2 linked regions of the Homo sapiens genome follow. The protein of the gene in region 1 purifies or fractionates together with the protein of each later gene. This does not show direct contact. Each region holds a gene or a part of one and is shown in the gene's direction. Other genes may lie near its edges.

Evidence for each region. The genes of interacting proteins can lie anywhere in the genome.
Region 2: the proteins of ABCF1 (region 1) and MAP2 fractionate together in Homo sapiens (co-fractionation; one large-scale study listed by BioGRID). This does not show direct contact.

Annotation. Positions count from the first base shown.
Region 1 is NC_000006.12:30,588,442-30,592,022, forward strand, and holds the end of ABCF1 (ATP-binding cassette sub-family F member 1), read left to right. Parts: intron 1-1,246; coding exon 1,247-1,279; intron 1,280-1,364; coding exon 1,365-1,533; intron 1,534-1,707; coding exon 1,708-1,772; intron 1,773-1,864; coding exon 1,865-1,937; intron 1,938-2,093; coding exon 2,094-2,260; 3' UTR 2,261-3,081; downstream 3,082-3,581. UniProt on the Homo sapiens protein: Isoform 2 is required for efficient Cap- and IRES-mediated mRNA translation initiation. Isoform 2 is not involved in the ribosome biogenesis.
Region 2 is NC_000002.12:209,728,047-209,731,329, forward strand, and holds part of MAP2 (microtubule-associated protein 2), read left to right. Parts: intron 1-1,803; coding exon 1,804-1,916; intron 1,917-2,135; coding exon 2,136-2,351; 3' UTR 2,352-3,283. UniProt on the Homo sapiens protein: The exact function of MAP2 is unknown but MAPs may stabilize the microtubules against depolymerization. They also seem to have a stiffening effect on microtubules.

The DNA of each region.
Region 1 (3,581 bases):
ACCTCCGTCTCCTGGGTTCACGCGATTCTCCTGCCTTAGCCTCCCGAGTAGCTGGGACAACAGGCGCGTGCTACCACGCCCAGCTAATTTTTTGTATTTTTAGTAGAGATGGTTTCACCGTGTTAGCCAGGATGGTCTTGATCTCCTGACCTCATGATCTGCCTGCGTCGGCCTCCCAGAGTGCTGGGATTACAGGTGTGAGCCACCACGCCCGGCAAACTCTACCATTTTATTTGAACTTTTGTAATATATTGCCATCTAGTGTGTTAGAAAGTTTGTAGCCATTTCTGCTCTCTCTAGCAGTGTTGAGAGGCCATTTTCTCATATCCAGAGATTAGATCTTTAGAAAGGTATTATTAGATTCTCCCCAAAACACTAAACTTGCCACATGAGGCCCTTACGATGTACCATTCGTGAGTCTCGCTGTATGGAGAGCAGGTGTTCTTTGGCTGTGGTTAGTCCCTCCTGCTTGTCCCTCTTGTCCTCCATTTTGCTTAACTCCCCTTTTGTCCCTTAACTCTTTTACTTTGCTCACCATGCCTTTGTCATATTAGGGGAACATCCCTGTTCCTTTTCTTTTTTGAGACAAAGTCTTCCCCTGTCCCCGAGGGTGGAGTGCAGTGGTGCGATCTCAGCAACTTCCACCTCCTGGGTTAAAACCATTCTTGTGCCTCAGCCTCCTGAGTAGCTGGGATTATAGGCATGTCCCACTATGCCCAGCTAATTATTGTATTTTTAGTAGAGACAGGGTTTCACAATGTTGGCCAGCCTGGTCTCAAACTCCTGACCTTAAGTGCCTCCTGACCTGCCTTCCTTGGCCTCCCAAAGTGCTGAGATTACAGGCATGAGCCACCGTGCCCAGCCCCTATTCCTTTTCTTATGCATACTTGTCCCTGGCCCATTTCTGGTGTTTGTCTCTCCTTCAGAAAAGTTGGTGTATGGACGAGGTCAGGAGATCGAGACCATCCTGGCTAACATGGTGAAATCCCGTCTCTACTAAAAATACAAAAAATTAGCCGGGTGTGGTGGCAGGCACCTGTATTCCCAGCTACTGGGGAGGCTGAGGCAGGAGAATGGCGTGAACCCGGAAGGTGGAGGTTGCAGTGAGCCGAGATCGCGCCACTGCACTCCAGCCTGGGGGACAGAGCGAGACTCCGTCTCAAAAAAAAAAAAAAAAAGTTGATGTATGGAGCTGCAGCACCTTTTTCCCTTGCCCTCCTCTTAACTACTTTGTCTTCCCTTGCAGACCCATGGGGAAATGAGAAAGAACCACCGGCTGGTAAGTTGGCATTGGGATTTAGGGAATGATAATCTGATGGAGGAAGTGTGACTTTAACCGACCACCTCCCTCTCTTCTCGGGCAGAAAATTGGCTTCTTCAACCAGCAGTATGCAGAGCAGCTGCGCATGGAGGAGACGCCCACTGAGTACCTGCAGCGGGGCTTCAACCTGCCCTACCAGGATGCCCGCAAGTGCCTGGGCCGCTTCGGCCTGGAGAGTCACGCCCACACCATCCAGATCTGCAAACTCTCTGGTACCACTTCAGGGGCCAGGGAGGGTGCCCTTCACCTTATCATTCATGTCTACAAACTGTACCTAGAGGAACCGAGAATGAGGGAGCCTCAGCTCACAAACTGGCACATCTTGAGGGTTTGCCTTCAGAATGTGAGGTGCTAGGTGTGACAGCCCTCCCCTTCCTTTGCTACAGGTGGTCAGAAGGCGCGAGTTGTGTTTGCTGAGCTGGCCTGTCGGGAACCTGATGTCCTCATCTTGGTGAGTGAGCTGGGCTGTGGGAAAAGGGATAAGGGTAACAGTAATGGAAGACGGGAGTTGCAGTGCTCAGTCATGGAATTCCTCCTATGTAGGACGAGCCAACCAATAACCTGGACATAGAGTCTATTGATGCTCTAGGGGAGGCCATCAATGAATACAAGGGTGGTAAGTCAGCTGAGAGTGTGCCCTCATCCCTGCTCCATGGGGACCAAGCTGTAGTGTCCTTCACTACAGAAGGGCCTAGGACTCCCTTATTTCATGTTCTGATTCCCCTCTTTCTCCTTTCTTCCTGCCCTCTGTTGTTGCTATCTTTCTTCAAAGCTGTGATCGTTGTCAGCCATGATGCCCGACTCATCACAGAAACCAATTGCCAGCTGTGGGTGGTGGAGGAGCAGAGTGTTAGCCAAATCGATGGTGACTTTGAAGACTACAAGCGGGAGGTGTTGGAGGCCCTGGGTGAAGTCATGGTCAGCCGGCCCCGAGAGTGAGCTTTCCTTCCCAGAAGTCTCCCGAGAGACATATTTGTGTGGCCTAGAAGTCCTCTGTGGTCTCCCCTCCTCTGAAGACTGCCTCTGGCCTGCAGCTGACCTGGCAACCATTCAGGCACATGAAGGTGGAGTGTGACCTTGATGTGACCGGGATCCCACTCTGATTGCATCCATTTCTCTGAAAGACTTGTTTGTTCTGCTTCTCTTCATATAACTGAGCTGGCCTTATCCTTGGCATCCCCCTAAACAAACAAGAGGTGACCACCTTATTGTGAGGTTCCATCCAGCCAAGTTTATGTGGCCTATTGTCTCAGGACTCTCATCACTCAGAAGCCTGCCTCTGATTTACCCTACAGCTTCAGGCCCAGCTGCCCCCCAGTCTTTGGGTGGTGCTGTTCTTTTCTGGTGGATTTAATGCTGACTCACTGGTACAAACAGCTGTTGAAGCTCAGAGCTGGAGGTGAGCTTCTGAGGCCTTTGCCATTATCCAGCCCAAGATTTGGTGCCTGCAGCCTCTTGTCTGGTTGAGGACTTGGGGCAGGAAAGGAATGCTGCTGAACTTGAATTTCCCTTTACAAGGGGAAGAAATAAAGGAAAGGAGTTGCTGCCGACCTGTCACTGTTTGGAGATTGATGGGAGTTGGAACTGTTCTCAGTCTTGATTTGCTTTATTCAGTTTTCTAGCAGCTTTTAATAGTCCCCTCTTCCCCACTAAATGGATCTTGTTTGCAGTCTTGCTGACAGTGTTTGCTGTTTAAGGATCATAGGATTCCTTTCCCCCAACCCTTCACGCAAGGAAAAAGCAAAGTGATTCATACCTTCTATCTTGGAACATGGGTCTCTTTCCTTTTTTTTTTTTTTTTTTTTTTTGACAGAATCTTGCCCTTTCACTCAGGCTGGAGTGCAGTGGCATGATCTTGGCTCACTGCAGCCTCCACCTCCTGGGTTCAAGCAATTTTCCTGCCTCAGCCTCCCGAGTAGCTGGGATTACAGGCACACACCACCAGGCCCAGCTAATTTTAGTGTTTTTAATAGAGACAGGGTTTTACCATGTTGGTCAGGCTGGTCTCGAACTCTTGACCTCAAGTAATTCACCTACCTTGACTTCCTAAAGTGCTGGGATTATAGGGATGAGCCACTGTGCCCAACTTCTTTTTTTTTCTCTTTTCTGAGACAGGGTCTTGCTGTGTTGCCCAGGCTAGAGTGCACTGTACCCTCAACCTCCTGGGCTCAAGCAATCCTTCCACCTCAGCCTCCTGAGTAGCTGGGACTACAGGCATGTGCCGCCACACTCAACTAATTTTTTTTTTTTTAATTTTTAG
Region 2 (3,283 bases), on another chromosome or scaffold:
TCACCTGGGCCCAGGAAGTCAAGGTTGCAGTGAGCTATGATCATGTCACTTCACTCCATCCTGGGCAACAGAGCAGACCTTGTCTCCAAAAATAAAAAGGACATTTTAGCAAAAATTTAACACGATTATATTGACACAACATATAATCAGAAAAGTAAATGATTTCTATCAGAGGCTACCAAAAATACAAAAATAAGATCACAAAGAAGTTGTTCTTATCTAGTTGAAAGTCCAGTATCCTCTAACCTCTAACCAAGATAAGTCTGTTTTTATGAATCATTGCAAATCATGTTCATCTCATCACAATCAATAAGTGAGACCCATATGGCCAGGTAAAATGTGGGAAGAATAACACTCTATAAAATGAGGCATATTTTCAGGGAAGGATAACTACATCTCTAAGCATGAGTTAAATAACATCATACAGTTTCTAAGCCTTAAAAGAAGAACGAATGGATGTTTCTCCAAAATGTAATCTAATTATGTAATATAATTTCAAGAGGCCCCTGGCCAGGCAGTTGGGTATTAACATAGATGTCTAGATATTGCATGAGAAAAATACCTCATGGCTTAAGAGACCGTGAAGCCTTAACAAACCTTCCTCTTTCGTCTACAGAGATACATGAGCAACAAGAATCCAAAATTGCAAAATCTCTTTCATATTTCCATACGGTCCATCAGGCATTTTTTCAAAATCAAACTCCCAAGCAAGATGCACTTTATGTACTCAACATGTTTATTGGAGCAGCTTTGAAATATGTAGTCTGTAAGATACATCACAATCAACAAGTGAGACCTACGTTACCGCTTCTTTCCAGAAGAACGCATGTGCTCAAAACCAAGTTGCTGTTAAAGTGAAAGCAAATCTCTTAGGTGGTGATGAGCAAATAAGGAGTCCAATTTCACTTTTTATCTAGATCAAATACATCAGCAGACACTCAGAAATGGTCAAGGACAGGCTCAAGGACAACGAGTAACTTGCCCAGTGTAGAAGAACTTTCCATATTTGAGAGCTTGAGAAAGACGTGTAGAGATGGGGAAGACTACACTGAAGAGTGCAGCATGGCACTGTTATAATCAGCAGATCAGAGTTCTAGACTGGTTAGCATTAGGGAAAATGGCATGGTCAAAACTCTGTCTCAATATTATCAGATCAAGGTCAGCGTCATATTGGTCCTATGGCATCCATACAAGAAAGAGATGATGATCTGTCACTCCATATATGAAACGGGAGGCTTTTAAAGCTTACTAGTCATAAACAACTTACCTCCCGACTCATTTCATCAGTGAAGCTTTCAATGTTGAACATTCATAAATGAATATATTGCCCACATGTGCACCACTTCCAGCCTAAATCTTCTTTGGATAAGTAACCTGTTACCATGAATATAAAGAAGAGTTTCATTTAAATTTAATTTGGTCCCTTAGAAATAAGAGACTAAATGTTCCAACTTTTAGAAAGGATTCAAATAAGATATTTTCATTTTGCTAATTTTTAGAGTTCTTGTTATACCAAAAAGAAAAGCCCCTCTGATTTCTTAGGTTAGACATGGGTAAAGGAGAAAGGTATTAATACGTGAAGCAATCCATATAATAGTATAAGAAGGGTGTTATGGTCTTGCATCATATGAGGAAATGATATGGGCTAGAAATTCTAAAAGACTCTTTTTACATATATGGTTGGAGGGATGGTAAAGTTAATAAATTTGTGGTTTGCCGTAGTCTATCTACTGCAGTCATTTTTGGGAAATAGTTACCACGAATGCAAGATATAGTTAAATCAAGGTATTTCTTCCCTCATAGGTGGCGGACGTGTGAAAATTGAGAGTGTAAAACTAGATTTCAAAGAAAAGGCCCAAGCTAAAGTTGGTTCTCTTGATAATGCTCATCATGTACCTGGAGGTGGTAATGTCAAGGTAAGAAACAAGGTTATGAGCCAATCTTGTCTTTTTAAAAAAAATTCTTCTGAAATACTCTTCATCAAAATAGGTCCCAGATTGTAGACCTGGACAAATAAGAAGTGGGGATAACAGAGGTGAATAGAAGTCATTAATGTCAGCCCTGGGAGATGGAGAAAGAGGTAGGGGCCAGTTAAGATGCATGAGTTAACGAGGACTGATGCTTGTCTTAAACAGATTGACAGCCAAAAGTTGAACTTCAGAGAGCATGCTAAAGCCCGTGTGGACCATGGGGCTGAGATCATTACACAGTCCCCAGGCAGATCCAGCGTGGCATCACCCCGACGACTCAGCAATGTCTCCTCGTCTGGAAGCATCAACCTGCTCGAATCTCCTCAGCTTGCCACTTTGGCTGAGGATGTCACTGCTGCACTCGCTAAGCAGGGCTTGTGAATATTTCTCATTTAGCATTGAAATAATAATATTTAGGCATGAGCTCTTGGCAGGAGTGGGCTCTGAGCAGTTGTTATATTCATTCTTTATAAACCATAAAATAAATAATCTCATCCCCAAACTGTAGTAATTGTTACAATTTTCTATTTAAAAAATGAATAGTACATGCAGAAATTGACCTGATTTCCATTTGCAACAGGAAGACACTGGCTTTACATGGGTTCAATTGGACAATTATTTTTGCTCTGCTCTGTTTTGCATGGAGTATTATTATTTTAAAAATTGCATTTTTACCTTTCATGTGCCTGAAGGCTATCCACTACATTCTGAAGGCCTTGTTAAAATCCAAGCTGCTCATTTCACTATTCTGTTTCTGAGTGAGAAGATAAAAACTGCCCATTGTAACTTATTTCAGGTTAAATTAAACCAAGGAGTCTGATTGCAGGAAGGGAAGAGCATGTAAGAAATAAGTTTTTTTAAAGTGTTATTTTGTATAAATGGGAAGAAAGATTCAATTAAGTTATTAACATTTGGGACCTGGATAATTATATCAGAGTATGTCAGTCCAATAAATTATTTAACTAATTAAAAAATAGTTGCAAAGCATTTGAGCTGTGGTTGAGGAAGTGGTGTAAAAGTGCATCCATTAGGAATGATGCACTTTCATTAGGATGGACTCGTGTCTGATTAGAATGTCAGTTGATCAGCTAGATTTGTGTCCACACTACCAGTTTCACACCCCCTTTCCATCTGTTTGATACAGTATTATAGATATAAATATATATATATTTCTCTGTGGCCATTTGTGATACTTCCTCATATACTTGAATATTATACTTCTTTATTCACAGTATCTGTGTCTCCTGCACCCTTTGGTGTTGCAATTTTAGATATGTGAAAGTAGATGTTAGCAGGGTTCTCTCCCTATTTAA